Homo sapiens: one gene and its partners. The protein of the gene in region 1 purifies or fractionates together with the protein of each later gene. This does not show direct contact. Each region holds a gene or a part of one and is shown in the gene's direction. Other genes may lie near its edges.

Region 1 (7,855 bases):
CTTAGCAGCATCCCGTCAATATTTTGAAATGTTTCTTTCTTTTTCGAAACTAGTTTTATTGAAACAGAGTTGGAATGCAACATGCTGCCTGGAAAGTTGGCTGGCTGCAGCCCAAATGCCCTGTGGGATCTTTCAGGTCTGACCACGGGTGATGACAAAGGCCCCACCTGGCTGCCTCATGGTGTGTGGCCAGTGCACTGCCGTGTCTGAAGGCTGTTGCGGGGAAGGACCTGGGTGCCCTGGGTATCCCCTGTGCCCAACCCAGGCACCTCCCTTCCGAGACCACATGGGTCCCTTGGCTGAGGCCTGTCTTAGGTACCTCTGCCAAAGCCTCCTTTTCAGGGGGCCTGGAAGACATTTTTCCCACTCTGACTTTGCATTCAGCACTTTTCCACTCTCAGCTGCCTCCCTCTCTCTCTTCCCCTGACTCCAGGGCCATAGAATGGCAGAAACCTTTTGTTAGGGGCTCTCTGGGCAGTGAGACAGTATCCCTTCACTGCTGTCTTCACAGACACACCTAACCTTCACCCAGTGCCGTGGGGGAAAATGAAACACCAGGGTGGGGGCTGGCACTCTCAGTGAGGCCTCTGGTTTCTACTCCTGCCGGGAGTGACACCTGCCTGGTGGAACCTGCGTTTGGCCTTTGACCCACCCACCACCCGGCACCTGGCAGCCGGCCCCTCTCGCTCAGCACCTCACAATGCACAGATTAAAAGTGTGTTGTTTGTTACATTTAAGAACCAGTATTGAAGCATTATGAATCAAAGTCCATACTTTGAATTATTCAGACTACCTAGTTTTATCTACTATCTATGTCGGTTGTGAACTATTCCATCCTATGTCCAGGCATAATGCAGAGAATGGTGTCCTGGCCACCTTGGGGGTAACCATGGCCATAGGTCATTATCACAGAGTCCAGATGTTCCATCTGGAGCCAACCAGTAAACACCCGGTCACTATGCCCACTCAGTGGCATGCCAGCCAGGACTCTGTAACACAATGGTGTAGATGCACTGTTCTCTGGGTTCCATCCCGTATCTCCAGTGCTCCTGGGCCAGGGATCTTTGATATGATTCTTTTGTTCCCAATGTAAAGGGGCACGTGAACTAAGTTGACCCAAAGAGAGGGTAAGTCAGGTGAAACCATCCCAAGTTTGTGTTATGCCATCCCGATATTGAGTGGTCTAATCTCTCAGCTGGTGTAGTACCAGCATTAAGGTATGTGGACTTTTACTGGAAAGCTCTTCCTATGGCTTTTGCTTTGTAAAGTATCATTCATAGGCCAGTGATGCACACTTGCCTTCATCATACTAGTGCTAAGCACCAATGACTGTCCTGAGAAACACAGACACATTTCTGATATTCTGTCTACTCTTGTCCTTGAAGAGGAGCTGCCACCATGGTAGGCCAGAACCACCAGAAAGGGGCGCAAGGCCACACACCTAACGAGTGTTGTCCTGTAATTTACTAGCACAGGCCCAAGCCTACTGCAAGAAGATGTTTGTTTCATGGGCAATGGCTGGTGATGGTAGCAACAAAACAGAAGAACTAGGGACAAAAAGAAGGAAGTGTGGTGGGAACTTGTAAAGGAAGACCTTCCTCATCTACTGACGATGATTATATTAAGGGTTTGTCTAGATACAGGCCTGGTCAGGTGTCTTGAGAAGGCTGATCGCCTCACATGTTGTTTTCTTCTCATCCTTGTTGGTTCTGGAGAGTTTTAGTTTTAGATCACCAATTTGAGATGAAGTCCAAATTGACAAAGCAGCTTTCCTTGCATGGGTGGCAGGTATCCAGGAATCAACTCCTTTAAGCTTAGTGGCACAAGGGTTGGTTAGGAGTCCCTGATAAGGTTCCTTCCTCCTTGGTGGAGAAAGTCCTTTAAAGGATGCTGTTTCCTACAAAGTCTCCTGGCTGAAGTATGTGTTCCTTGAGTTTTTGCTTCTTGGAGCTCACTGTGGAAAGAATCTTTTACTAAATAACAGTTTTTACTTAGGTGCCTTATGAGGCTGCTGCAATAATACAACCTGTCCCTTTTTAATATCATCGATTTACAATTTCCTGGAGACAATTTCATAGGTCTGTCCGTTATAATTTCAGATGAAGACAGTTGGTGTTTACCCATAAGGGCTGATCTTAGGTGAAGCAAAAACAAGAAAGAGCTTCCAGTCAAGGGAGTTTTAAAACTTCAGTTAATTTTGCCAAATGAGTTTTGATTATTCTGCTTGTGCATTCTACTAACCCAGATGACTGGGGTGATAGGCACAATGGAAATGCTGGAAAATGGGCCAGATTTTGCATACTAACTGGATTATTTGTGCAGTGAAATGAGTGCCTCTGTTGCTATAAAGTTCTTGAGGAACTCCCCAAATCGGAATAATTTTCTCTAAGATAATTTTACTTACCGCCAAGGCTGCTGCTCTTCTGCATGGAAATGCTTCTACCCATGAGAAAATACACAAACCATCACTAGGATGTGCCTGTATCTTTGTGATGGTGGTAGCTGAAAAAATCTAGTTGCCATACCTCGAAAGGGCCTTCTGGTAAAGGAAAATGACATGGAGAACTGGGTCAAGGTTTCCTTGCATTATATTCTGGGAAGACAGCCCTGACTGTATACCCGTGAGCAACAGTTGGAGAAGGTTTCCGACAACATTGTTCTCCTCAAGAAATCAATAATCTTATCAGGGCTCCAGTGAGTCACATCGTGTATGCACGTTAAGAAAGATGGCTGGACCGGGCGCGGTGGCTCACGCCTGTAATCCCAGCACTTTGGGAGGCCGAGGCGGGCACATCACGAGGTCAGGAGATCGAGACCATTCTGGCTAACAGAGTGTAACCCCGTCTCTACTAAAAATACAAAAAATTAGCCCGGCATGGTGGCGGGTGCCTGTAGTCCCAGCTAGTCAAGAGGCTGAGGCAGGAGAATTGCGTGAACCCAGGAGGTGGAGTTCACGCCATTGCACTCCAGCCTGGGCAACAGAGCGAGACTCCATCTGAAAAAGAAAAAAAAAAAAAGAAAGATGGTTGTAACTTAGTTGGAAGTATGAGTAGAACATTTGGTCAAACCGTACATCAGTCTCAGAAGCGCATGTGCCACTTTTGTTTCCCAATTTTCTCGTCCTGTTTTTGGAGATTTAGATTGAGCTAATTTTACATAAAAATCTAACTTCCTTAAAGGCCAAAATGGTTTGATCTTTTTGTTCAGATATGTTTATGGCCACCCTGTTTGCTATACTACCTGCTAACTGGCTTATCTTGCTTTTTTGAGTGTCTTTGAATGGCCTGGAATCTTGATAATGGCTAATGATTTTGGCAATAGTATGGCTTGCCATAATTCTGAAACAAGGCACCCATTTTTTTGTGGGCTGACTAGAAAAGGTTAAAAATCCTTTGTCTCCATAGCATTCCAAAGTTATGAGCTACTCTATAAGCATACCTGCTATTGGTATAAAGATTAGCAGTTATTCCTTTTGCCAACTGACAGGCTCTAATTAATGCTATTAACTTTGCTTGTTGAGATGATTGCTCCTGGAAGACAAGCACTTTCTATTTCTTTGGGCAAAGACGCTATGGCATAACCAGTGTAATACCTTCCAGCTGCATCTTTAAGTAAGAGCCATCTGTAAACCAAATAACATCAGCGTTAGTGAGGGGGGTTCTTGCATGTCTGTCCTAGGAGAGAGCTGGTCAGGTAAGATGATGCAGTCATGCAGCGTTTCAGCTGAAGGTGGGGGAGAGGGTGGCAGGATTTAGATGACATCTGGACATTGTAGTATGCGGCTGAGAGAATAACTTCATGAGAAGCCAGTTACTAACTGATCGTGTTGAGTGTGATGCAAGTTTAGAAGCGTTTCCACAGAATGCGTATCGAAGGCAGTGAGGGGTGATCGCATCCTTGGTGGTTTGGTTGCTCTTGCAGAGCTGTGATGGTTGTTGCATCATGCAAGGAGACAGTCCTTTAGCTGTAGGGTCTAGTTGTTGACTGTAATACCCTACAAGTCTGCTTTGTCTCCATGTTTTTGAGTCAGAACGACAACAAACGTTTTACTTGCCAACAATTCTGCAACCTGAGCTGGACCCAGGCCCGACGGGCTTTGCAGACAGTCACGTGTGTGGCTGGCCTCAGCTGGGATGTTGGGATAGCTGGGTTGTCCTCCCTCTTCCATTTCATAGGATCTCGGGATCTCTTTCCATCATTTTTCCTTAGGAAGTTGGCCTTTTAACATGGTAGCTCACGGCTCCCAAGCGTGCACCCATGTGTAAGCTTTAACGATTGCACTGAAGTTGGCTTGGTGTAATTGTCTGCTTATCGATCTTTTTCTCGGCAGGTTTCCTGTTCTCTCACTCCGTACGTGATTAATTTATTTTCCCAGGACGTCCCAGTTACCCGGGCCGGGGGGGACCGGCCCGCGCGGCAGTGCGAGGTCGGGCCTGAGCAGGGCGCCTGTTGGATAGCGTAGCAGGTGAACTGCCCACTGCACGTTAACAATCGTAACACCCTGCACCCTTTAAACAGGCTTCTTTTTTCTTTTCTTTTTTAAACAGGCTTCTTTCATCAGAAGTGTGAATCAAACCAATGCCGTTAACACACACACCCCCACACCCACACACCAAATTATGGCCTTTATGGTGCTACCGGCCACCAAGTGCCCTCCAAGCAAGCCCGTCACGCTCGCGACTCCGGGGCCGCTCTGTCCGCGCAGCTCGAGGGCCTCGGGCCACCTGTCGCCCGGAACTTTCTCGGCCGACCGGGCAGCAGCAGGGGGAATGCACCAGACAGGGCCGGGAACGCTTAGGCAGCCGCACGCGCGGCCGCGGCGCAGGGAAGAAGCGGGGCATTGTGGGAAGCGCCCGCGCTTTCGGCGGGTTCCGTTAAAATGGCGCCCTGGTGGCCGGCGGCGCCCGCGCCTTAGCCTGTCAGGAGCAGGGAGCTTGCGGGGCGCAGGAAGGGCGCGGGCCGCGGTCCCTGCGCGTGCGGCGGCAGTGGCGGCTCTGCCCGGACCACCGTGCACGGCTCCGGGCGAGGATGGCGACCCCGGACCAGAAGTCGCCGAACGTTCTGCTGCAGAACCTGTGCTGCAGGATCCTGGGCAGGAGCGAAGGTAGAGTGGCCGGGCGACGCGAAGCCCGCAGACCCGTCCCGGGGGCTGCTCCCTGCGCGTGCAGCCCTAATACGTTCCGGGGCTGGAGGAACGAGGATGCAGGGCCGGGCAGAGGGCTGGGGGACGGGCCGAGGACGTGGGGCCCGGACGAGGGAGCGGAGGGCTGGGGTTCGAGGGTCAGGGAGCCGGGGAGGACAGCGGAGGGCTGGGGGCCAGGACCGGGGCGGAGGGAGTGGAGAGGCCAAGGCCGGGGCGAGAACGCCGGGGCGGGAGGCGGGAGGGCGGAGCCGAGCCGGAGCGGGCTGAGTCACCGCTCACTCCGCTCGCGGGTCCGTCAGTGAGGACGGGAGGAATGCCAGCTCGCCAATTTATCCCCCTTCTCTGGTGTCACGCGCCGTGGGAGGGCGCCTCTGCGCGCCTTTGGGTTCATCCTGTGGGGTGGAGAGAGCGGCTGCGCCGCGGAGGTGGATGCGGGGTGCTGGAGTGTCACATCATCGTCCCTTTTCGTTAGGAAAGTTTAACAGGCTTGAGTATTATGGGAAGAGGGTGTTAACGACTGTAACTGCCGTGTTTTCCTACTGTTTAAAGGGTTGAAGGTTGGATTTGATATAAAACTATTCTGGGAAAGTTCACATGGCGAATATTGTTACTAATAAGCAAAACTAATCCTATACGGTAGGTAAAACCATTTTGTAGTCGAGGTACTTTGAAAGAAATGGTACAGGATGCCATTTCTTGCTCCTTGTTTTGGCCAGGTTGGTGGGGCAGAGAGTGAGGATGCACCATGAGGGAATTTTCTGAGTAATGGAAGCAACTGAGTTACATCTTAAGCACCAAAATGTGGAAAAGAAGTTACTCAATTTTTGAAGGAAGACTTCAAAGTTACATTTAAAGTACTGAGAATGCATTTTGACCTTTCATGCTTCATGACAATTACTGTACATAATTCATTGGATGTTCTATGATAATCTTGGGGCAATCATGAATAATTTTGTGTCGCTATTAAATGAGTGACTTCACACAGTTCTTGCTGCATCTTGTAAAGTTTGATTCTATCACTTTATTTATCTAAGAAATCTTTGAGGACAACCCCGTCCTCAAAGTTCCCCCCGGGAACTGTGCTAAGTGCTGGTGATGCAGATGCACAAGTCATTCCTCCCACAGATCTGACAGACACTCTACTGGAAGAGACAGATGATAAACCAGCCATGTTAATTAGCAATAAGTACTGTGGCGAAAAAGTAGGGTAAAGGAATAGAGAGGGAAGAGGCAGGTGAGGGAAAGCCTCTGAGATATTTAAAGAGACCTGAATGGAGTAAGGGAGGGCCATTTGAACATCTGGGGAAGGTTCTGAGTAGAGAGAACCAGTGGAAAGGTCTTGAGGTATGAGCATGGCCTGCCATCGTTTGTTTTTGTCATTAGCAGACTGAGTTTCCTTTCACATGTTTCATGTTCCTCGTCATAGGGGGAATCAGATAAAACTAAGATTGTTAGGACTTACCCACCTTAATGTCAGTGTTTTCCTTATACCAGTGGTTCCAGAGTTTTTTTTTCTAGGGATAAACCACACATTCATACATTCCCATTGTTATAATTGGATTTTGAAATTCATTCATCATGAGCTAGAATGATATTTCTCAACCTAAGAACTTTTTTTTTTTTTTGAGACAGAGTCTCACTCTGGTCGCCCAGGCTGGAGTGCAGTGGTGTGATCTCGGCTCACTGCCAAGCTCTACCTTCCGGGTTCATGCCATTCTCCTGCCTCAGCCTCCCGAGTAGCTGGGACTACAGGCGCCCGCCACCACGCCTGGCTCATTTTTTGTATTTTTAGTAGAGACGGGGTTTCACTGTGTTAGCCAGGATGGTTTCGATCTCCTGACCTCGTGATGCACCCGCCTCGGCCTCCCGAAGTGCTGGGATTAGAGGTGTGAGCCACCGCGCCCAGCCAAAAACTTTTTTTTTTTTACATTGAAGATTCTTTGATATAAAAGTTTTGTCCCTTCTAAGAGACTGAAAAGCTTCTTTTCAGCAAAATTCTGTATCCTACTATCTTCCCATTTAGAACTGTGTCTAAAAGTGGGCTCTCAGATCCTGACAGGGTCCTCTCTGAATAAATAATTTATTTATTTATTTATTTGAGATGGAGTCTTGCTCTGTCACCTAGGCTGGAGTGCAGTGGCATGATCTGGGCTCACTGCAACCTCTGCCTCCTTCAAGTGATTCTCCTGCATCAGCCCCCCAAGTAGTTGGGATTACAGGTGTATGCCAGCACTCCTGGCTAATTTTTGTGTTTTTAGTAGAGATGGGGTTTCACCATGTGGCCAGGCTGGTCTCCAACTCCTGACCTCAAGTGATCTGCACCCCACCCCCCTGCCGCTTGGCCTCCCAAAGTGCTGGGATTACAGGCACGAGCCACTGCGCCCGGCCCTCTCTGAATAAATTATGTCATGAAGTCCATTAAAGGTGATGCTCTTTTTGCTATGTTCTAGATAGCTAGGATTGTCAAGCATTTATGATATAATTTTAAATTATGCTGCTATTTACTGAAGAATTTATAAATAGTAGCTTACCTTGTTCTTTCATTTGTTATACCTTAGTGAGCAAAGGAGCAATATTAATTACTACCTTTACAATATTTGGTGTTAAAAATTTGATTAGTGAGCATTTTATCTGGTAACTCCATAGAATATTTGATTAATTACCTTATTCTTTGATGACATATTACAATTGGCCTTATGCTTTTGTAATACA
Region 2 (6,925 bases), on another chromosome or scaffold:
TAGTAAGTGGCAGAACCAAGATTCCAATACAAACACCACCTCACAAAACTGAGACAGGGGCAAATCCCCTCCATATTACCTGTGCACTATGCAATGAACGGAGGGGAAGAGCAAGCTCTGCCAAGGGAGCCTTTGAATAAGCCATGAGAAAACTAGGATCAAAGGCCGGGCACCATGGCTCACACCTGTAATCCCAGCACTTTGGGAGGCCGCGGTGGGCAGATCACTTGAGGCCAGGAGTTTGAGACCAGTCTGGCCAACGTGGCAAAACCCCATCTCTACTAAAAATATAAAAATTAGCTGGGTGTGGTGGCGGGCACCTGTAGTCCCAGCAACTCGGGAGGCTGAGGCATGAGAAATGCTTGAGCCCAGGAGGCGGAGGTTGCAGTGAGCCAAGATCACACCATTGCACTCTAGCCGGGGTGATAGAGGGAAACTCTCAAAAAATGGAAAAAAAAAAAGAAAAAAAAAGAAAGAAAACTAAGATCAGCTTTCCAGAATCCTACCTCTCAGCTCACCCAGGTCAGAAATGAAAAATGCTCAGACCTAGACTTCACAGACAGGAAGTCTGCCAAGTCCCACTGGTGGGCTAGTTACAGTTTTCATGGCCCAGCTCTGCCCACTGCACAAGTAAAGGCACTGGGGTGACACCTGGCAGTCTGTGGAGGAAGAGAGGCTGGGTGTAAAGAGGCCATGTAGGCAGCTGTAGAGTGAGAGGAGACAGGAATCTCTGCCTCTCGGCAATAGGAACATCTCCCAAGTTTTTTCAATTCTTTTTTTTTTTTTTTTTTTGAGACAGAGTCTCGCTCTGTTGCCCAGGCTAGAGTCCTGTGGCGCTATCTTGGCTCACTGCAAGCTCCGCTTGGGTTCACGCCATTCTCCTGCCTCAGCCTCCCGAGTAGCTGGGACCACAGGCACTGGCCACCACACCCGGCTAATTTTTTTGTATTTTTAGTAGAGACGGGGTTTCACTGTATTAGCCAGGATGGTCTCGATCTCCTGACCTCGTGATCCGCCTGCCTCGGCCTCCCAAAGTGATGGGCTTACAGGCATGACCCACCGCGCCCAGCCTCTTTTTTCTTTTTTTGACTGAGTCTCACTCCATCATCTCACTGCAACCTCCACCTCCAAAGTTCAAACGGTTCTCGTGCCTCAGCCTCCCGAGTAGCTGGGATTACAGGGGCCTGCCACCACAGGCTGCCTAATTTTTCTATTTTTAGTAGAGGCGGGTTTCCCTATGCTGGCCAGGCTGGTCTCAAATTCCTGGCCTCAAGTGATCCGCTGCCTCAGCCTCCCAAAGTGCCGACTTTTTCAATTCTTTTTTGAGATGGAGTCTCGCTCCGTTGCCAAGCTGGAGTCCAATGGCATGATCTCGGCTCACTGCAACTTCCGACTCCCTGGTTCAAGCAATTCTCCTGCCTCAGCCTCCCGAGTAGCTGGAATTACAGGCACATGCCACCACATCCAGTTAATTTTTGTATTTTTAGTAGAGATGGGGTTTCACTATGTTGGCCAGACTGGTCTCAAACTCCTGACCTCGTGATCAGCCCTCCTCGGCCTCCCAAAGTGCAGAGATTACAGACGTGAGTCACCATGCCCGGCCGCTTTTTCTTTTTTCTCCTTTTTTTTTTTTTGAGATGGTCTCGCTCTGTCGCCCAGAGTGGAGTGCAGTGGCGCGATCTGGGCTCACTGCAAGCTCCGCCTCCCGGGTTCACGCCATTCTCCTGCCTCAGCCTCCCTAGTAGCTGGGATTACAGGCGCCCGCCACCACGCCCGGCTAATTGTTTTTTGTATTTTTAGTAGACAGGGTTTCACGTGTTAGCCAGGATGGTCTCGATCTCCTGACCTCGTGATCCGCCCGCCTCAGCCTCCCAAAGTGCTAGGATTACAAGCGTGAGCCACTGCGCCCGGCCAGCTTTCTCTTTTTCTTTTTTCAGACGGAGTCTCGCTCTGGGCTCTGTCGCACAGGCTGGAGTGCAGTGGCGCGATCTCAGCTCACTGCAACCTCCGCCTCGCGGGTGCAAGCAATTCTCTTACTCAGCCTCCCAAGTGGCTGGGATTACAGGCGCCCGCTACCACGCCCGGCTAATTTTTGTATTTTTTACTAGAGACGAGGTTTCACCATCTTGGCCAGGCTGGTCTTGAACTCCTGACCTCGTGATCCACCCGCCTGGGCCTCCCAAAGTGCTGGGATTACAGGCGTGAGTCACCGCTCCCGGCCTCAATTCTTAACCTAGCTATCAACTGCAGTGTTAAAGAAAAACGCCTCAGTCCTAAGGCACTTGGTCAAGAAAACGCTGCACTACTACAAAATGATCAAAGCAGCATTAAACTGTGGACTGTTCGGTAAGTGCGGAGCTCTAGAGACGATGAAGGGGAGAGCATCTCTGCTCAGAAGAAGCTTTCATGGGCAGCGACTGAAAGAATGAGGCCCAGAGGAATTTCTAGGAAATTTCCAAGAAAGGAAATTCAAACCCGAGAATTCCCAAGAGGTGTCTCCCACACCCCTGTTATCTGACTCTGCCATGGCCACCCTCCCCCGTCACAGGTCTCTGCGTGCCATGCACCTAGAGTCCACTTCATGGCGACTCTCCAACACCTATTTTCTCCAGGAGCTGCTTCGGACCCCGTTTGTTTTTTGTTTTGTTTTGTTTTTCTGACAGCGACAGCCCTTGGGCAACGCTAATCATTCCAAGCAAATTCTGTCATGCCAAGACCTCCCTTAACAGCACGCGCCCACTTGTTCCCAACTCTCCTGCCAATTGGGCTTCGGGAGCCTCCAAAACCAAGGCTCGGAGATGTGGAGCACACAGGGGAAGGGTCGAGCTGGGACCCACACCCGGCTCTTACACCCACACCGCCTGTTGAGCCCAAGGCTCAACTTCAACACAAAGCTCTCCTTCCCTCAATTCCTTCAACGAAGGTTAACCTTCAGCGAACACCTACCGGACCGGGACAGAGTGTACGAGCCGCGCGGGAAGGTGGCACAAAGGCATGGCCCAGAGGGGTGGCAGAAGACTCAACCGGGGCCCTCCACTCCCCAGCCTGCCCTGCCTGGGCAGAGCCGGCTGGCCGGCCCGAGTCCTGGGGCTCGCGGAGGAACGGAGATGGCCTCCGCAGGGGCTCGGGGAAGCCCCCAGGGCGCCGGACCGTCTCAGGCGCGCATCCCGCGCCACTCACCTGTGGGATCCATAGCGTCGCTCGCCTCAGAGATGGAAGCCGCCATTCCGCCACGGCGCCGAAAGTCGTCATCAAGCTGCGCGCAGAGCCACGCCCCGCGGCCGGGCGGGAAAAGCGCTTCCACCTCTTTGGGCCGTTACCTCAAAAGGCGCGTGCGCAAAGCGAAGGCCGGCCGGGCGGGGAAGAGAAATGGCGAGGCAGGAGTGCGGGGGAGGGAGTGGTCCTTAGCTGAATGCGCCTGCGTTGTGGCGGCCTCCGGCGCCCCAAGGTACTTTCTCCCCAGCAAGGAATCCGCGTGCGCGTAAGCAGTATTGTTGATTAGTGCCCCCCCCTTCCCCCCGCCCGCCCCGAAAAGCGACCCCTAGTGGTGCACCGGTGCGGACCAGAAAATTGCACGCTTTCTTGAAAGAGGCATTTACCGAGCGCCCAATGTATGCCTGGCACTGGGCTGGGTGCTGCCACCTAAGCGAGCACGACCAATGCAGTCTATCAGGGAGGCCCAGATCGCCAAGCAGCGGACCCCTGCGGTCCGCCATGCCACTCCCGGCTCCTAGAGCGCCGCTCAGCACACCGTGAGCGCCCAATAACTGTTGGGCTTCAATGACGCCGCGGAGGCGGCCCCGTCCCCGCGCTCCCGCCCCTCCCGCCAGGGCAGCCCGGGAGGCCAGACGTTGACGCTGCAGGGAGAGGGTGGTGGGCGCAGCCGCTAGGGGGCGCGGCGGGGCGGAGCGCACCTTTCCGCGGGCCGCGGGGATGGCGGCGCAGGGCGTAGGGCCTGGGCCGGGGTCGGCGGCGCCCCCGGGGCTGGAGGCGGCCCGGCAGAAGCTGGCGCTGCGGCGGAAGAAGGTGCTGAGCACCGAGGAGATGGAGCTGTACGAGCTGGCGCAGGCGGCGGGCGGCGCTATCGACCCCGACGTGTTCAAGTGAGCGGGGCGGGTGGGGGCCGCATGCTAGCCAGACACCCCCCGACCTCTGCTTTCCGGGTACGCCCGGCCCGCTGGTCGGGAGGAGCCCCCGCCCCCGTCCTTGTCGGGTCTTCAGGGAGGTGGCCGCGCCGGGCGGAGAGGGCTCACCGGCCCCGCGTCTGTCCCCGCCAGGATCCTGGTGGACCTGCTGAAGCTGAACGTGGCCCCCCTCGCCGTCTTCCAGATGCTCAAGTCCATGTGTGCCGGGCAGAGGCTAGCGAGCGAGCCCCAGGACCCTGCGGCCGTGTCTCTGCCCACGTCGAGCGTGCCCGAGACCCGAGGTCAGAGCTGGGCCCGCTGTCCCTGCCCCAGTGGCGGGGGTGGCGGGCGGGGAGGGGGCAGGCGCGGCACAGCGGCGGCGTGGCCCTGAGTGGCCAGGCCTGTCTGTCGGTCTAGGCCCAGCACCTGCAGGGCCCATCCGTGGGCTCTGCTCCTGGGCTTCGCTGCCAGCCTTAGGAGGCACGTCCAGGTCAGGTGGACGCAGAGTGCGTACCCCAGGGTGGTCCAGGCTGGGTAGGGCTCCTCCGCTTAGCTCCCCTCCACCTCTTCACTCAGGCCTTCATCCTACAACGTCGGGAATCAAGACAGTTTGGGGCTGGGCGCCCTGGCTCACGCCTATAATCTTTGGGACCCCAGGGCGGGAGGATCGTTTGAGGCCATGAGTTTTAGACCACTCTGGGTGACAGGGTGAGATCCTGTCTCTAAATGTTTTTCAAAAGACAGTCTCGATCTCTGTCCTGTGGTATACAGCATCCAGGGAAGTGCCCAGGGACCAGGGCAGGCAGAGGTCTTCCTGCCTTTACCCCACCTGGGCCCAGTTCCTGCGCAGGGGCTTGGCCAGTCCTGGTCAGCTTTCCCTCTGATGACTGCAGGAAGAGAGTCAGACGCGGAACTCCCAGGGTGCAGAGGCCTGCGGGGTCTGAAGGGCCTCCTCCCTCTCCAGTGTGGTGACTGGGCTGAGGAGATTCTGGGACTGAGAGTGTCATGGTGGAGCCTCTGTCCCTGCTCATCCTCTCCGCATGTTGCTTCTGCTCCCGATGGCTCTCTCTGAAATGCAGCACAACCTCCTAGGCCAATGGAAGAAGGCCCAGAGCTGGCTCCCTGCCTGGAAGCACGAGGAGACCCGCACAGGCATCCTGAGAAGGCGTGGAGAGCAGGCTGCCTTCATGGGGGGAGTGCCAGGGCCTGGGCACCCACACCCGCTGACCCAAGAGGGCCCGGGCACCTGCGTGCTGGCCTCTTCACTGACCTTCGCTCTGTCTGCTCTCTTTGTGTCTCTCTCTGACCTCCAGAGGCCTCCTTTCTCTCTGCCAGGAACAGTAGCCCCCCTGCAAGGCCCTCCTTTTCCTCCAGCCCGCAGCCTGCGGCCTCTCCGGTTCTGCTCCACAGCCCGGCTGCCACACACTCGCCTCTCTCTCCAGGCCCCCCGGGTTCCCTCCGCCTCTCTTGCTGCCTGTTCTCTCCTTTTGCAGGTTGCGTTTATTGGCTTATCTCTGGGGGTTGGTGCTCTCCCTTGTTTCCATGGAAACTGCCTGGCCCCAGGAGGCCCAAGCAGCTTTGAGCTCCAAGGGCAGGACCATGCAGGCCATCGCTGCCCTGCCGCTTAGCCACAGGGCACGATTTCTGACTCGGTTTATTAGAGACATAGTGTGGCAGTCTCTAGACCCCACAGTCGGGCTGGCATCTGGGGACAGGACCAACACCCCCACACCCCAGAGGCGAACTGTGGTGAGTGTAAAGAGCCCCTCTCCAAGGGAAGACAGCCGGCCAGAGTGCGGTGTGCTGTGCTGGAGAGCACAGCCCCAGGCGTGACAAACACCTCGGCCTCTTAGAAGTTGTCCCTTATCTGGACAGGAAGTCTGGAGGCTGAAACAGAGACTCCCACCTTCCCAGAGTCTCCTGGGCAGTGCCACACAGATGCCATATGCTGGCCCCGTGGCCACACTCCAGCACTCAGCCCCCTTGCCCACCTCACTCCTGAGTTAGCACACTTTCCAGGTGTCAGCAGGTGTGATCAGGGGCTCAGAGCCAGGGTCCTGTGAGAGCCCAGGGGTCTTTGGTTGCACCTCCTGCGTGCACTTCCTGACAGCGCCCACCTCACTGCCACCCAGAGCTCGGACCCAAGGGAGGGTGGAGAGGGGCTGAGGGACAGGCCTGGAGTAGGGGTGTATGCACTGCAGGCTGAGATGAGCAATTGAGGGGCAAGTGTCCAGCAGGAGGGAGAAACTGGGAACAGAGTCCTTGTCACTCCAGGGGATGTTGCTGCTCACTCAGCACTCACTCAGGGCTCTGGGAGCCAGGCCTAGCTCTCAGGGCAGAGGGTGTGGCAGGGAAGTGAGATGATCACACTCAGAGCCCAGTGAGAGGCAGTGAGGAAAACCACCAGCGAGACCAGTGTGGTGGCTCACACCTGTAATCCCAGCACTTTGGGAAGTCAAGGCAGGTGGATCCCTTGAGCTCAGGAGTTCAAGACCAGCCTGGGCAACATAGCAAGACCCCATCTCTACAAAAAATACAAAAACTAGCCAGGCAGGGCTGGGCGCGGTGGCTCACGCCTGTAATCCCAGCACTTTGGGAGGCCGAGGCGGGCGGATCTCGAGGTCAGGAGATTGAGACCATCCCGGCTAACACGGTGAAACCCCGTCTCTACTAAAAATACAAAAAAAATTAGCTGGGCGTGGTGGCAGGTGCCTGTAGTCCCAGCTACTCGGGAGGCTGAGGCAGAAGAATGGCGTGAACTTGGGAGGTGGAGCTTACAGTGAGCCGAGATCACACCACTG
Region 3 (7,074 bases), on another chromosome or scaffold:
CCAGCCTGGGCGACAGAACGAGACTCTGTCTCAAAAAAAAGAAAAAAAAAAAAAGATAATGAAAAGCAAGCTTTTCATTAAAAATAAAAGTGCAAATCATATATCTGCTACAGGAACAGAATATATATAAAGAACTTACACAACAAACAAGCCAGTTTTCAAACGTGCATAAGATTTGAACAGACGCTTTGCCAAAGAGGATGTGTGAATGACAGAGAAGCATAAAGATGCTCAACATCATTCGTCTTTTTTTTTTTTTTCTGTTTTTTTGAGACGGAGTTTCACTCTTGTTGCCCAGGCTGGAGTGCAATGGCACGATCTCGGCTCACTGCAACCTCTGCCTTCCAGGTTCTAGTGATTCTCCTGCCTCAGCCTGCCAAGTAGCTGGGATTACAGGCATGCGCCACCACGCCCGGCTAATTTTTTTGTATTTTTTAGTTGAGATGGGGTTTCTCCATGTTGATCAGGCTAGTCTCAAACTCCTGACCTCAGGTGATCTGCCCACCTCAGCTTCCCAAAGTGCTGGGATTACAGGCGTGAGCCACAGCACCCGGCCTATCATTCGTCATTATAACCACAATGAAACTTCACTACATGCCCACCAGAATGGATGAAATTTAAAGACTGACAATACCAAGTATTGGTGACGATTTAAACCACTGGAACATGAAGAAATTACTAGCAAGAATGCAAAATGTTTCAGCAACTTTGGAAAACAGTTTCTTTTCTTTTTTTTTTTTTTGAGACGGCATCTCGCTCTGTTGCCCAGGCTGGAGTACCGTGGTGTGATCTCGGCTCACTGCAACCTCTGCCTCCTGGGTTCAAGCGATTCTCCTGCCTCAGCCTCCCGAATAGCTGGGATTACAGGCGCCTACCACCATGTTTGGCTAATTTTTGTATTTTTTTGTAGACACGGGGTTTCACCATCTTGACCAGGCTGGTCTTGAACTCCTGACCTCGTGATCTACCCACCTCAGCCTCCTGAAGTGCTGGGTAGTTTCTTAAAAAGGTAAACATATATCTACCATATGACCCAGTAATCCTGCTCCTAGGTATTTACACAAAATAAATACTTATTTTCACACAAAGACTTGTATCCAAATGTTTCCAGCAGCTTTATGCATAATAGTGGAAGATGGAATGACCCAAATGTCCATCAGTGCAAACATGTATTAACAGTGGTGTTCTGTCCATACAGTGGGCCGCCACCCAGCAAAACCAGGAGCCAGTTACTGATTGTTGAGATAGCATGGATGGATCTCAGAAGCACTGTGGTAAGTAAAAGAAGCCACATGCAAAATATTAAATACTGTATGATTCCATTTAGAGGGAATTCTAGGGTCCAGGAGTGGTGCCTCATGCCTGTAATCCCAGCACTTTGGGAGGCAGAGGCAGGCGGATCACCTGAGTTCAGGGGTTCGAGGCCAGCCTGGCCAATGTGGAGAAACCCCTTCTCTACTAAAAATACAAAAATTAGCTGGGCGTGGTGGTGGGCGCACCTGTAATCCCAGCTACTCGGGAGGCCGAGGCAGGAGAATCACTTGGACCTGAGAGGCAGAGATTGCAGTGAGCCGAGATTGTTCCACTGCACTCCAGCCTGGGCAATGGAGGGAGACTGTGTCTTAAAAAAGAAGACAAAATAGAGGGAATTCTAGGAAAGGCAACCAGCAGTGGCAGAAGCTGAGAGGTGGTTGCTGGGAAGGGGCTGGGGGGAGGGGTGGCTGCAGAGGGGCATAAGAGAATTCTTAGGGGTGATTGAAACGCCCTAGGTAATGATTGTTGTCATGATACCATCGCTACACATTTGCCAAAACTTTGCACGTAAATTATATGCCAAGAAAGCCAATTTTTAAAAAGAAGGAAAGGATGGGTTTGAAACCCCAGTTCTTCCCCTACCAGCTGCACAACTTTAGCCGATTACGTCGCCTCACTGAGCCTCTGTTTTCTCATCTGTAACAGGGAATATAAGAGCAGCTGCTTCCCATCATGGCTGGAAGTATTAAATGCATTCATTTGTGGCAAGGCTTATAGTAATGCCTGGCGAAATCCATATTAGCTATTATAGGGAGCGTTCCTCAATTTGCGGAGAGGTTTGGGGTAGAGGCACAAAAGATGACCTTACAGGCCAGTTAACCATTCTCATCTCTGAAATGCCCCGCACTTTCCCTACCATGTCTTGGGAGCGGCTTCCTGATGACAGCAGTTCTGTCCACACGAATCTGAGGCTTTCACCCAGCTGTCTTCTCAGAGCCGAGCCGCTGCCCCTTCCCCTGCCTGTCCCCTGTCAGCGCTTCCCTCCACCCCATGGTCATCGCACACCGGAAAGGCCTTGCGAGCCCCAGGGGAGCAGATGTTGGTGCTCCGATTCCACGAGGAGGCCTCTGGGTTTTCCATTTTACCTGCCTGGATGGCTTAGGACTTTCCCGGACTCTGGGGCTAAAGATTCGGCACCTGAGTTTTAAAACCTTTCCCAGCACTTCCCAGAGATGCCCTCCCGTCCTCTGCACTCCTGTCCTTCCCTGGCCACTTGGGCAGAAGTCATTAGCACTGCTGAGAAGGGATGATGCTGGGGTTTCTGTGCACTCAGGCCCTTAATCCAGATGAGATTTTTTTAAACTCCCCACAGCCAGTTCTATTTCCAGCTGCACCTGCCCCTGGATCTTCACAGTTCCTCTGGAGGGGATTAGGCAAACCGTGCAGCTGCCTAAAACCTCACACCTTGAAGGAAATAGTCATTGAATGTCTGACCTCTGGGCTGGCTGTCTCGGACTCTAAGCTGCCAGGGAACCAGGGCCTTCCACCCAGTGGGACTGCCTGGGGGCTTTTAAATGCCCCTGCCTGTCCCCTACTCCCAGAGATGGTGACTTCCTGGGTCTAGGCATTAGGAGTTTGTAAAACTCCCTGATGATTCTTCTGTCCAGCCCAGGCTGAGAACCACTGGTCAGAGGCCTGGGCACATCCCAAGGCTCATCCAGAACCATGGGGTGCAAGTGACAGAAACAAGAGCGGCTGCTGATTGCCTCACTGAGCGGTGAAGCCCAGCCTTGACCATGGATTAGGCCAGCTGGACCCAGGAGCTCAGGCCGGAGGATGCCTGCTTCCCTCTGCTCTGCCCCACCGGCCCCAGCAGCCTGGGCCCACATCCTCTCAGTCAGAAGCTGGCTCTCACCGGCTGGCTGGGCTCACAGCCCCACCCTGAAACCAGCAGTGTGGCCCGGGGCCCCCGCAGGGCTCAGACAGCCAGGCCTTGGGTGGTTGAAGGCCAAGAGCTGGGGGCCCTCTGGGAACCACACAGCCGGGAATGGGAGGGGGTGCTCCCCAAGGGACAGTTGAGGTGCCGGCTTTCAGTGGGAGGAAAGGGAATGGGTATGAGCTGGACAGAGCCATTATGTCACCCAGAGAGGCTCTGTCCCCCGCCCCGCTGAGGGGGAGACAGTAGGAGAGTGGCCACAGGTCCAGCAGTGGCGAGCACAGGCTCTGGGGTCAGGTGTTGGAGCAGGGTCCAGCTCCTCCACTGGCCAGCTGCATACCTGGTTCTCAGTGCCTCCCTCCCCTGGGGACAGGGGACAGTGCCATGCAACCTTGTGGGGCACAGGCCCTCTGTGTGGTCAGCATGCCAAGAGCACAGAGAGGGTGGATTTGCACATAAGCAGCCCCCTGTGTGGTGTTCACCCAGCCAGCAACGTGCTAGACCCAGGAAAAGACTCGGAGCGCTCTGTCAGAGTCCACAGCCACACCACCAGGTGCAGACTGTCTGGGCCCAGAGCCTCTGCTTCTTCCCCTCCCGTCCACCAAACGCCAGCCCCTGACCAGCCTGGCGGCCTTTCCAACTGAGTGTGGCTGTTAGTCCTCTTGCAGGCCTTGCTCCAGCCAGACTCCCACCTTGGGCCTCTGCCAGCCTGGCACTGATAGCCACAGGCAGAGCTGAGACAAAAGAGAGGGGCCCTGGGGAGTATCAGCAGCAGCCAATCCCGGAAGACATCTATGTCAGGTGGTTTCTGGAAATCGAAAGTAGACTCTTTTCTGAAGCATTTCCTGGGATCAGCCTGACCACGCTCCATACTGGGAGAGGCTTCTGGGTCAAAGGACCAGTCTGCAGAGGGATCCTGTGGCTGGAAGCGAGGAGGCTCCACACGGCCGTTGCAGCTACCGCAGCCAGGTAAGCTCCTGCCTCTAGCTCTCAGGTGGGCACCCCTCTCAGTCTCTCTCTCTTTTTTATTTTTATTTTTTTTGAGACAGGGTCTCACTCTGTCACCCAGGCTGGAGTACAGTGATGCAATGTCCGCTCACTGCAGCCTCTGCCTCCTGGGTTCAAACGATTCTCCTGCCTCGGCCTCCCAAGTAGCTGGGATTACAGGCGCGTGCCACCACGCCCAGCTAATTTTTGTATTTTTAGTAGAGACAGGGTTTCGCCATCTTGGCCAGGCTGGTCTCAAACTCCTGACCTCTGGTGATCCACCCGCCTCGGCCTCCCAAAGTGTAGGGATTACAGGTGTGAGCCACCGCGCCCGGCCAGGGCACCCCTCTCTCTACACAGGCAAGTGGGGGTCATGCCTCCCTGTTTGCACATAGGCCTGGAGCTGGGGATCCAGGGCTCCTGAGTCCAGCAACAATCATTGCTGCTCCCAGGCCCACAGGGCCTCTGTGTACAGTTGGGCAGATTACTCACTGCACAAGGATACCAGCCAAAGGGCAAGTGGGTTAGAATTCAGCTTGGCCCTCTCTCAGACCTGTGCATTTGGCCTAGGCCTGCACCCACTCCAAGGAAGAGCACCTTTTTTTCTGATTTGCACGAAGGGGCCAACACAGGCAGCCGGGTCTCAACTGTATGAAGGAATCAGGCAAAAATAGCCGCTGCCACACAAAGGGCAGCGACGCCACCTGCCAGGTGCTTCGTTGCCCCCCCCCCTTTTTTTTTTGAGACAGAGTCTTGCTCTGTCACCCAGGCTGGAGTGCAGCGGCTCACTACAATCTCTGCCTGCCGGATTCAAGCAATTCTGTTGCCTCAGCCTCCTGAGTAGCTGGGACTACAGGTGCACACCACCATGCCCAGCTTATTATTATTATTATTTTGTATTTTTAGTAGAGCCGGGGTTTCACCATGTTGGCCAGGCTGGTCTTGAACTCCTGACCTCAAGTGATCCACCTGCCCCAGCCTCCCAAAGTTCTGGGATTACAGGCGTGAGCCATCGCGCCTGGCCAGTTGGCCATTTTTCCAAGGCCCTGAGTTACTCTCCCAGGACGGACAAACCTAGTGGCTGCAGCAGAGTGAAGTGGCTGGGGGCAGAAGTGGAGAGGGCGTCCACCCATACCGGCGTGCCTGGGACTGAGGGGTTTCCCAGGACACAGGGAAACTTCAGTGCTAAAACCAGCACAGTCCCCAGCACACAGGACAGGCGGTCACACCCTGGCCCCTTTAGCCATCTACTGACATTGACACAGGGAGGAGAGGTGGGCTCCCCCGAGCAGACCCCCTGCCTGTGGCTCACTGACTGTGGATGTGGAGCCCATTTGCCTCTCTGGGTGTCAGCTCATTCACTTGTAAGGTGAGGTGTAACTAAGGTGGTTCTCAGGGTCACGGTAAGGCCTCCAGTGGTGCCCGGGGAGCCCCGACAAGGGGTGGCTGCACAGTGCCAGCGAGCACGAGTCCCAGAGCAAAGCTGCTCACCAGCCAGTGCACCCAGCTCCCAGGGCGCTTGTTCATGCAGACTCCCATGCAGAGGGGCTAGGGCAAGGCCAGCCATGACTGCATTTCCGACAAGCTCTGGGGATGCCATTGCAGCCGTCCACCAGGCCCCCTCCAAGCAGCCTCAAGGTCACCAGGCCCAGACTCCCAGCCGGTGCCCACAGCAGTGCCACCCAGAGGCCTGCCCCAGGCTTGCTGAACTGAGGGGACAGTGTCAGGTATCACAGGATTCTTACCGAGCCAGAGAAACCATAACTGTCTCTCCATTGGCAGGGTGTGGGGGAGGGAGGCAGACGAAGACAAAAGCGTGGAAATTACACGGAGGCAAGAACACCAGGCCAGAAGGTGGAGACCCGGACCTCCCCAGTCCTGGCCTGAGTGTCAGTGTCTTGGGGATACTTCAGCATTTCCTCCCTGTTCTTCCCCCAGCCTGGCCCACCCTGGGCTGCAGCCCTGACCCTTTTCATCTATCTTCCCCATCGGAACACCACGGAGCCCCGATATATCTCCCTGCCACTTATCTCTGTCACCCCTCGCCCGGATTCTGTGCCCTCTCCTGACGAGTCCCCTCCCATCCACTCTCCAGGCTGCAGCCTCGTCTCTGCCTGCTGAGACCCTCTGGGACAGTCCCTGCAGGGGTCTGTTGCCTGAAGCTTAAGGCCGAGATCTTAACCAGGCTCACCCGGCCTCCCGACCTGGGCCCACGCCTGTGGCCTCCTCCATCTCCCCGCCCATGCCCGTGTGGCAGCCTTGCCCGGGGCCTGGTTTTTTGAGATGAGCTCACTTGCCTCTAGTCACCAATTCTTGCTGCCCTTACTGCCAGGGGGTGCCCCCAGCCCACGCTTCATCTAGCCAAGTGTTACACATCCTTCCAGGACCACACTGCAGACCAGGTGAGGGGCCCCCGCGGGGGCATCCACAGCACACGTCACACTTACTGGGATCATAGTGGGCTCTGCAAGAGAGGGACCCCGCCTGCCACACAGCCCAGGTTGGGCTGAAGGGTGAATGGGCAGGCCAGTCCCTGGGGCCTCGGGCCATCTGGCTCCCGTGCCTCACCCCTCCGCTTCTGTCTGCTGCAGGATCTGGGCATCCAGGCACGGCCATGACCCCTCCGAGGCTCTTCTGGGTGTGGCTGCTGGTTGCAGGAACCCAAGGTGAGCTGAGCCCCTGGGAAATACCAAAAGCAGAAGTGTGGAAGGCTGGTGCACCCTGGGGCTGCTCAGAGCTTCAAGGAGATATTCTGCCTGGGGCCCGGGGCCCAGCGGTTAGCCAGATCTTCTCTCCTGCTTGAAGCACCAGGTATCCCCAGTGATGATGACTTGGAGGTTCCCGGGGGCTCACCTGGGTTCAGGTGAGATGCAGGTTATAGAGAGGACACTAGGGAA
Region 4 (7,023 bases), on another chromosome or scaffold:
ATATCTATATTTTGCTTGAAGTTTTCTGTGGATATATATTGCATTAGCTTAAACTCTAAGGCTTTTCCTGTAGCAGTACTTTACTCCTATTTTCCTTCGGTTTGTTTTTAATAGTCTTGGTTTATCTAGTTTATGGTGCAGCTTGTCACATTCATCTTTTATAAGAGGAAATGGTTCATAGATTCTTCAAGATTAATCCCTCTGTCATGTGGTATTACATTAGACAGCTGGCAGTTTATATATATAGATAAATGACTATTAGAAATAATGTTATAGAAAGTTTCTAAGATTTGTATTCCAGACAGTGAATTTTTCTAAATGTCACAGGAACACTCTTCTTTGCCAGTTTTTCAAGTTTGCACATGCCAAATCTTATTTAGAAATGTTTGATGTCTCTCAGTCCAAGTTGACTATTAATATTTTCTTCATTCTTTATTTTAGATCCAAAGATAGCATCTTCTGTCACTGCTGGAGTTGCCAGTTCACTCTCAGAAAAAATAGCCGACAGCATTGGAAATAACCGGCAAAATGCACCATTGACTTCCATTCAAATTCGTTTTATTCAGAACATGATACAGGAAACGTTGGATGACTTTAGGTAGTAATTGAGAAACTACTCCTTCTATCTAGACCTTACTTGTTTTTTTTTTAGATGTAAAACCAGAACTATAGATAATGTTGTTGGTTACTATTGTCTAGGTTCTGGTAATCCTAAAGCCATAGAAAACATAATGAGTTTTGTTGATCTTTTCGTACTGCATTTATTGATTATGAGCCAGGAAAAGGCACATTTACCTAGGGCAATTATTAGGTAACTCAGCAGGGCAGTCTAGCAGGTAGACTGCCATTGTGAACTTTTTTTATTATTAAAATGTGGACAAGTTCTGGTAAGCTTAAATTGGGTTCTTAACCTGCAGTATGTTCATAGATCTATTAGGTATGCTGTGTGCAATAATGTAGTAGAAAAAGATACTTTAAAGCACAATTCTGAATGTTTTCCAATAGAATGCATCAGAATGTAATACTTAATCTAAAAAAAATTCTTTCTCAGACTTATCCTTGTCTGTCTCATCCTTCGAATTGTGAACATTCTAAGAATGTGTTCTACAATGCTGCTTTCTTTTATCATCTCAATATTTTTGGAAGCTATCTTCAATTATTAAAATCATTGGTGCCTTTTTTCCTTTCTAACCTATAGTTAATGTTGTAGCTCAGATTTGGATTACCGTAAGCAAGAATGTTGGAGAAAATGTGCAGTTTTTGTTGGTGCATGCTTCCTTTTAATGTTTTAAAATACTTTTAAAATATATTTTTAAATGTCGAAAAATACTTTTTAAAGAAAAATTGTAATTTTGGCATTTACCCTACCTAGTATATGTACCAGATACTAAGGATACATCAAATGATCTGCCACAAAGGCCTTGTGATGTAGTTGGGCTAGGTGCAGTGTGTTCTGCCATGTGTGTTTCTCTTAATGTGAATTAATTCATTTGGGATCAGTAGAATAGAACACTGTTGACAATATGATGAGGAAATTTTGTTTGTTCGTGTAATAGCAGCCAAAATAAAGTACACCTGAACACAGCTGAATGCAGCAAACCCCGTCAGCATCCATCTCTTTTTATTCACTTCCTCTTGGCTTGGCTGTGTGGTCTGTTAGAAGTACTTATTTTGTGATTATTTCCCATCTTTGGGCATTTTGCTCTTGCCTCTGTAACTTGATAGCCGCAATCCTTCTATCCTCTTCCATTAAGTGACCATCACTTCTTCACAGTAAGGGTATTATTCAATAATTATCTATTAGATTTTTACTATGTCTTTTTAACTATGTTAGTATTTTTATTAGGATTTAATTGTTTTTGTTGTGCTCTGGTTACAAAGTTGCATAGGTTTTTGAGTGCTTTGCCCTAATCCTTTTTCCCTAAGTTCTGTTATTTTTAATACACAGTGTTAAAGAATATACGTTTTTTTCAGGAGTGCATAAATATTTATGGCATAATAGTAGAACTGTCTGGATACAGCTGACTATAATACAGTGTGAGCAAAGTGATGTTGAAATCACAGAAAGGGAGCAGTTCTTCTGTGGGGGCAGATTTAGAAAGGTACACTGAAGAGATTTTATTTTATACTGATGTGTGTGGGAACAGCTTGAGCAGAGACATGATCATACATTCTAGGAATGTTTGCAGAGAGAAGGCACCGTGGTAAGAGACCAGGCCTGAGGGACAGTTGTGAAGGTCTTAACACACAGGTAATGGAGAGCCATCAGAGTTTTTAAGCACAGGAGTAATGGGTGCTGTCTATTTATTACCCATTTATTCAACAAGCATTTGGGTGTCAGTTCACCACTGGCTTCAGATGATTTGAGGACAGTGGGCTCAGGGCCTTTCCTTCAGCAGACCCAGGGATCTGAGTGCTGGAGCAACTCTGAAATCGCTGTGCATTTCTGCCCTGCTGCCAGCTTTCGGGGTGGCTGGAGCTTGTTTTTCACTATCTAACCTGTTCCTGGCTTTCTGTGCCTCAGGAGAAGTGTGTCTGTCCCACTTTCAGCCCTGCAGAGCTGCTGCAGCACGTTTGGTGAAGACGTACAGTCAGTGCCTCTTGGTTTTGCTGCCCTGTGCTGCATGTCTGCACCTAGGAGTGGTGGGTAGGGACTTCTCTCAGCTCTTCTGCCCTTTGACCATAGGCAGCCTCTGCCTGGGACGCAGTGAAGACCCAGAGTGGCTCAGAGGATTTCCATAAATTCACTTGTTTTGCCATTTGCCTAGGTGTTCATCAGACTAGGTGTTCATCTACACCTATCATTGGCAGGACAGAGAGGGTATTGAGGACCTCTTTCTCAGCCATCCTCCCGTGGCTGCCATCTTCTCCATGAGAGCCTGGAGTGCCTTAGAGGGGTTACTCTCAGTTCTTCTCTGCTGCCCTAAGGTTTCACCAGGCTCTGTGCATCTGTATCTTAGGGAGTCTCCCTCAGCCCTCCTGTTACACTTGTCCCTACTTTTTTTACATGAGCGCTGAATGAAGGCTTGTGGGAAAAAGTTGGTGAGTAAATTGAGACTCTCCTTGTGGCTGGGACCCCTTGGAATTCTAAACTATCAAGCAGTGTTTACTTGGCTTTTAAAAATCTTATTAAAATTTCAGCTAGTTCTTTTTACTCTGTCAAGGGCATGAAGATGGGTCTCTTTTCTCCTAGTCATGGGTCTCTTTTCTCCTAAGAGGAACTCCTCATTTTCTGGATTTTAGTTCATTTAGATTTCTTTCCATTCTCAGCTCTCGGTTGAATTTAAAATAATATGATTTTATAGGTTATCAGGTTTGTTTTCGTTATTAGAGTTGAGAAATTATACTTTTGCACCAACCTAATACATCCTAAGTGGAAATCTGTGCATCTGTTTCTGTTGTCTATTAAGAAGATTTAAGTTTCTTTTGGCAAGCAGATCCCTTTGATCCTTTGGTTACTAGGTTCAGGTTTTCTTAGCACTAGTTTGTTTCCAGTTTGCCTTTATTCCTAGTGTGTAGTCTTTTCTAGGACATCAGCTGAATGTCTGGAGTATTCACTGTCTTTTTTACCTTGGTGGGTCCCAAACTTCAGCCTCTATTTTGCCAGCATCACAAGACTTCCAGAATACTTTCTCTGCTCTTTAGTTACTTGTTTTTTGGTTGGTTTCCTGCCATCTAACCCAGGGGGAGCATTGCTTAGAAGTCAACAGATGTCTTGAGGGGAAATTCCACAGTTTCAGGCTTAGTTTTCTGCAGGCCTCCTCTCTTCAAGACCTTGGCTCTTACAGCCTTGGCTACCTTGGTAGGCCCAAACTCTTAATACTCCCCCACCCAGCGAGACTATCTCAACCTCCAGGCCACTGCTTCAGCTCGGTTTCTTCTCCACACTGTGGAATCAGCACATACTCTAGAAGGAAAAACAGAGGTAAATGAAGAGCTTACCTAGTAGTCTTTCGTTTGCAAGATCATGGCCCTTCAAGTCCTGGCTACCTCAATGGTTCCCTGATACAGTGTTTTTGTTTGTTTTCAATACAGTTTTTACTATAATTGAAAGTAGAAGAGGAAATTTTTAAAAATACCCTCATAGTTAGAACAGAAAAACAATAAGTTACTTGGGAATAAATCTACCAAAGGTAGTGAAGATTTTTGTAGAAAAACATTAAAAATTTTTTTTGTTTAAAAGCATTAACATTTAAATAAATGGAGAGATTATAAAGATATTAGTTCACCTAAATAGGTCAGTAGATTGAATGCAATTCCAATTAAAATCCCAGCTGGGATTTGGAAGAAGATGATGAAGTGATTCCAAAATATGTATGGAAGGAAAAAAATCTAAGAATAACTAAGACATTTCAGAGAAGAATAAGGTTGAAGGGGACTTATTTGTCAGATGAATACACTTAATTATTAAAGTATAATTAAGATATATAGCATGGCACAGGGATGACATACTGGCCAAAGGAATGAAATAAGCTGGAAAGAAACCTATGCATATATGGAAATAATAGAGAGGTAGCATTGCAGATTTATGTGCAAAAAATGGAATAATCAGTAAGTTGTGTTGTGACATTTGTTTTTTCCTGTAAAAAATAAGTATAGATTCCATGCAATTGAGAAAAATCAGTTCCATGTAGATTAAAAGTTGACTTTATAAAAGTTTATAACTTCATGGTAGGAAATCATTAAAAATAAAATAATGCACTGCCTATAAAAATACATTGGTAAATTTGACTGCATTATTAGTATATTTGAGCACATTAATAAGAACTATTTATCACACAATATCACAGAGTGAAGGGATAAGAAGATACCTGCAGTTCTCATATAAATAACAAAGGATCAGATTATGTAAAGAATGCTTATAAATGAATAAGAAAAAGATATGAAAAAGCATTTCAAGGAAGAGGAATGGTATATGAACACAGGAAAGATATTCAACTTCACAATTAATCAGAGAACTAAAAATGCAATGAGATACCGTGTCACACCGAGTAAATGGGAAAATATAAAAAATCTGGTAATACTAAGTCTTGATGATATAGAGCAAGAAGAACTCTGTTATACTGGTGACATCCATTGATAACTACCTTTGGAAAACAATTTGCATGATTTTGTAAAAGTATACACTTGAGTTACAGTTGGTTATATCATCAATGGACATTGGCACATGTGGGTTTGGAGATAATACATGATTGTTTATAACAACGTTGGAATAGTAAAAACTTGAAAACAGTCAAAATATTAACAGGAAAATAGATACACCAGTACAAACTAATGATATACAGATATATAAAACATGAATCTTCAAAACAATATTGAATTATTTCTTAAATATAAGCTATATGGTACCCTTTTTTGTAATGCTCAAAAACATGCACAATGAAAACATTGACTACAGATTATATGTTATACAAATGTATTAAAAAAGCAAAAGCATTTCTTTGTCCAACAAAATTCAGGAGAGTAATGACTTCTTTCTTGGGCTTTTTCCCAAGAGTTAAGTGATAGAATCAGACAGGAACACACAGGAAGCTTCTATTATTTGGTAATGTTCTAGTTCATAAGTTGTGTGGTGGGTGACTGAGTGTTTCTTTTGTTATTATACTTAATAATTTTTACATATTCTTTTGTAGGCATGAATTAATTGTATTTTATTGAGTAAGCCATGCTATATCCACCCAAATTGCCACTTTATACTGAAAGTACATTTTTTCAATAGCTAAACTGATAATAATAAAATGATCTTTCTAACCTAGTGAATTTTCTGTATTTCATTGTAAGATAAGTTTGTGTCTTAATGACAATTTCTATATAAAGGAATATAGTATCGGAGAGTTCAGGGGTTAAACAGCCTGGGTTTACATCCTAGCTCCATCATTTACTGGTTGTGTGACTTTGAACAAGTTATATCTACTCTGGTTAAGTTATTTCTTTTGTAAAATGGACCTGTAATAATTGCATCTACTTGTGAAGATATTTTAAACGAGTTCTTACATTTAAAGTAAAGGAAACAGTGCCTAGCACATAGTGAATAAATGCTCAGTGCATTGGTATTTTTATTATTATAGTAATTATTAACATTCAGTAATTTGGCAAATGAAAAAGTTTAGTGAGTTTCTTGAATGACCTAGAATTGGTTAAACTATTGTAATTCTAAAAAGTATTTTACATTCTTCCTAGAGAAGCATGCCATAGGGACATTGTGAATTTGCAAGTGGAGATGATTAAACAGTTTCATATGCAACTGGTATGTATGGCAAATTTTATTTTAATATTTTAAATGAAAGTAGAGTTGTGTGAATTTTTAAAAATCCATGAAAGGTAATATATTTTAGTTGTTTTGTTTAGTTTCTAAGATAAATAGGGAGTTTTATAGACTAAATAAGTAAAATAGATTTTAACTGGTCACCTCCTTTTTAACCTCTGAGATACTTAAGCCTTCTTTTTTCCATGGCTTTCTTCCTGATAAGTAAGCAAAAAGCATTTTAAATGTGCAAATATAAATTTTCCAAATATACTAATTTCACCAACGATCTTCCATTTATATTAACAAACTAGTAAGTTGTTAAGTACAAGAAATATCATTCACCTAGTTAATTGAACATGAGAGAAATGATAGCTGAAAGTATATTAAACATAGCCTGCCAAATAAATGTGAAATATCAATAATTTAAAAAGCATTTTCCTGTTTTTCTAGAATGAAATGCATTCTTTGCTGGAAAGATACTCAGTGAATGAAGGTTTAGTGGCTGAAATTGAAAGACTACGAGAAGAAAACAAAAGATTACGGGCCCACTTTTGAAATTTCAGTGAATACCTTAATGTTCTGTAATTTGGGAAGTTTCTGGCAACACAGAACTACATAGAATCAGTATTGTTTTCATGGCCTCCAGGGAAAAAATGTTTTTCAAGTAAGAGTAAAAGGATGATGGGATTTTATACCAACAACTGTTTCATCTTAAAAATATGTATATTTTTATATTAAAAATTGTACAGTATGTCATCTACCCAATAGGAAAGTCA

The links.
Region 2: the proteins of TUBGCP3 (region 1) and MZT2B purify together in Homo sapiens (affinity purification with mass spectrometry; 5 studies listed by BioGRID and IntAct, with this or other methods). This does not show direct contact.
Region 3: the proteins of TUBGCP3 (region 1) and LGALS3BP purify together in Homo sapiens (affinity purification with mass spectrometry; 5 studies listed by BioGRID and IntAct, with this or other methods). This does not show direct contact.
Region 4: the proteins of TUBGCP3 (region 1) and NEDD1 purify together in Homo sapiens (affinity purification with mass spectrometry; 3 studies listed by BioGRID and IntAct, with this or other methods). This does not show direct contact.

Annotation. Positions count from the first base shown.
Region 1 is NC_000013.11:112,585,154-112,593,008, reverse strand, and holds the start of TUBGCP3 (gamma-tubulin complex component 3), read left to right. Parts: upstream 1-4,855; 5' UTR 4,856-5,028; coding exon 5,029-5,104; intron 5,105-5,587; exon of another isoform or gene 5,588-5,779; intron 5,780-7,855. UniProt on the Homo sapiens protein: Component of the gamma-tubulin ring complex (gTuRC) which mediates microtubule nucleation.
Region 2 is NC_000002.12:130,178,350-130,185,274, forward strand, and holds the start of MZT2B (mitotic-spindle organizing protein 2B), read left to right. Parts: upstream 1-3,912; 5' UTR 3,913-3,933; coding exon 3,934-4,103; intron 4,104-4,277; coding exon 4,278-4,426; intron 4,427-5,437; coding exon of another isoform or gene 5,438-5,617; intron 5,618-6,925. Other genes in the region: SMPD4 (sphingomyelin phosphodiesterase 4), read right to left, coding at 2,947-3,252. UniProt on the Homo sapiens protein: Required for the recruitment and the assembly of the gamma-tubulin ring complex (gTuRC) at the centrosome.
Region 3 is NC_000017.11:78,976,909-78,983,982, reverse strand, and holds the start of LGALS3BP (galectin-3-binding protein precursor), read left to right. Parts: upstream 1-4,059; 5' UTR 4,060-4,159; intron 4,160-6,768; 5' UTR 6,769-6,791; coding exon 6,792-6,843; intron 6,844-7,074.
Region 4 is NC_000012.12:96,945,252-96,952,274, forward strand, and holds part of NEDD1 (protein NEDD1), read left to right. Parts: intron 1-441; coding exon 442-598; intron 599-6,180; coding exon 6,181-6,247; intron 6,248-6,697; coding exon 6,698-6,802; 3' UTR 6,803-7,023. UniProt on the Homo sapiens protein: Required for mitosis progression. Promotes the nucleation of microtubules from the spindle.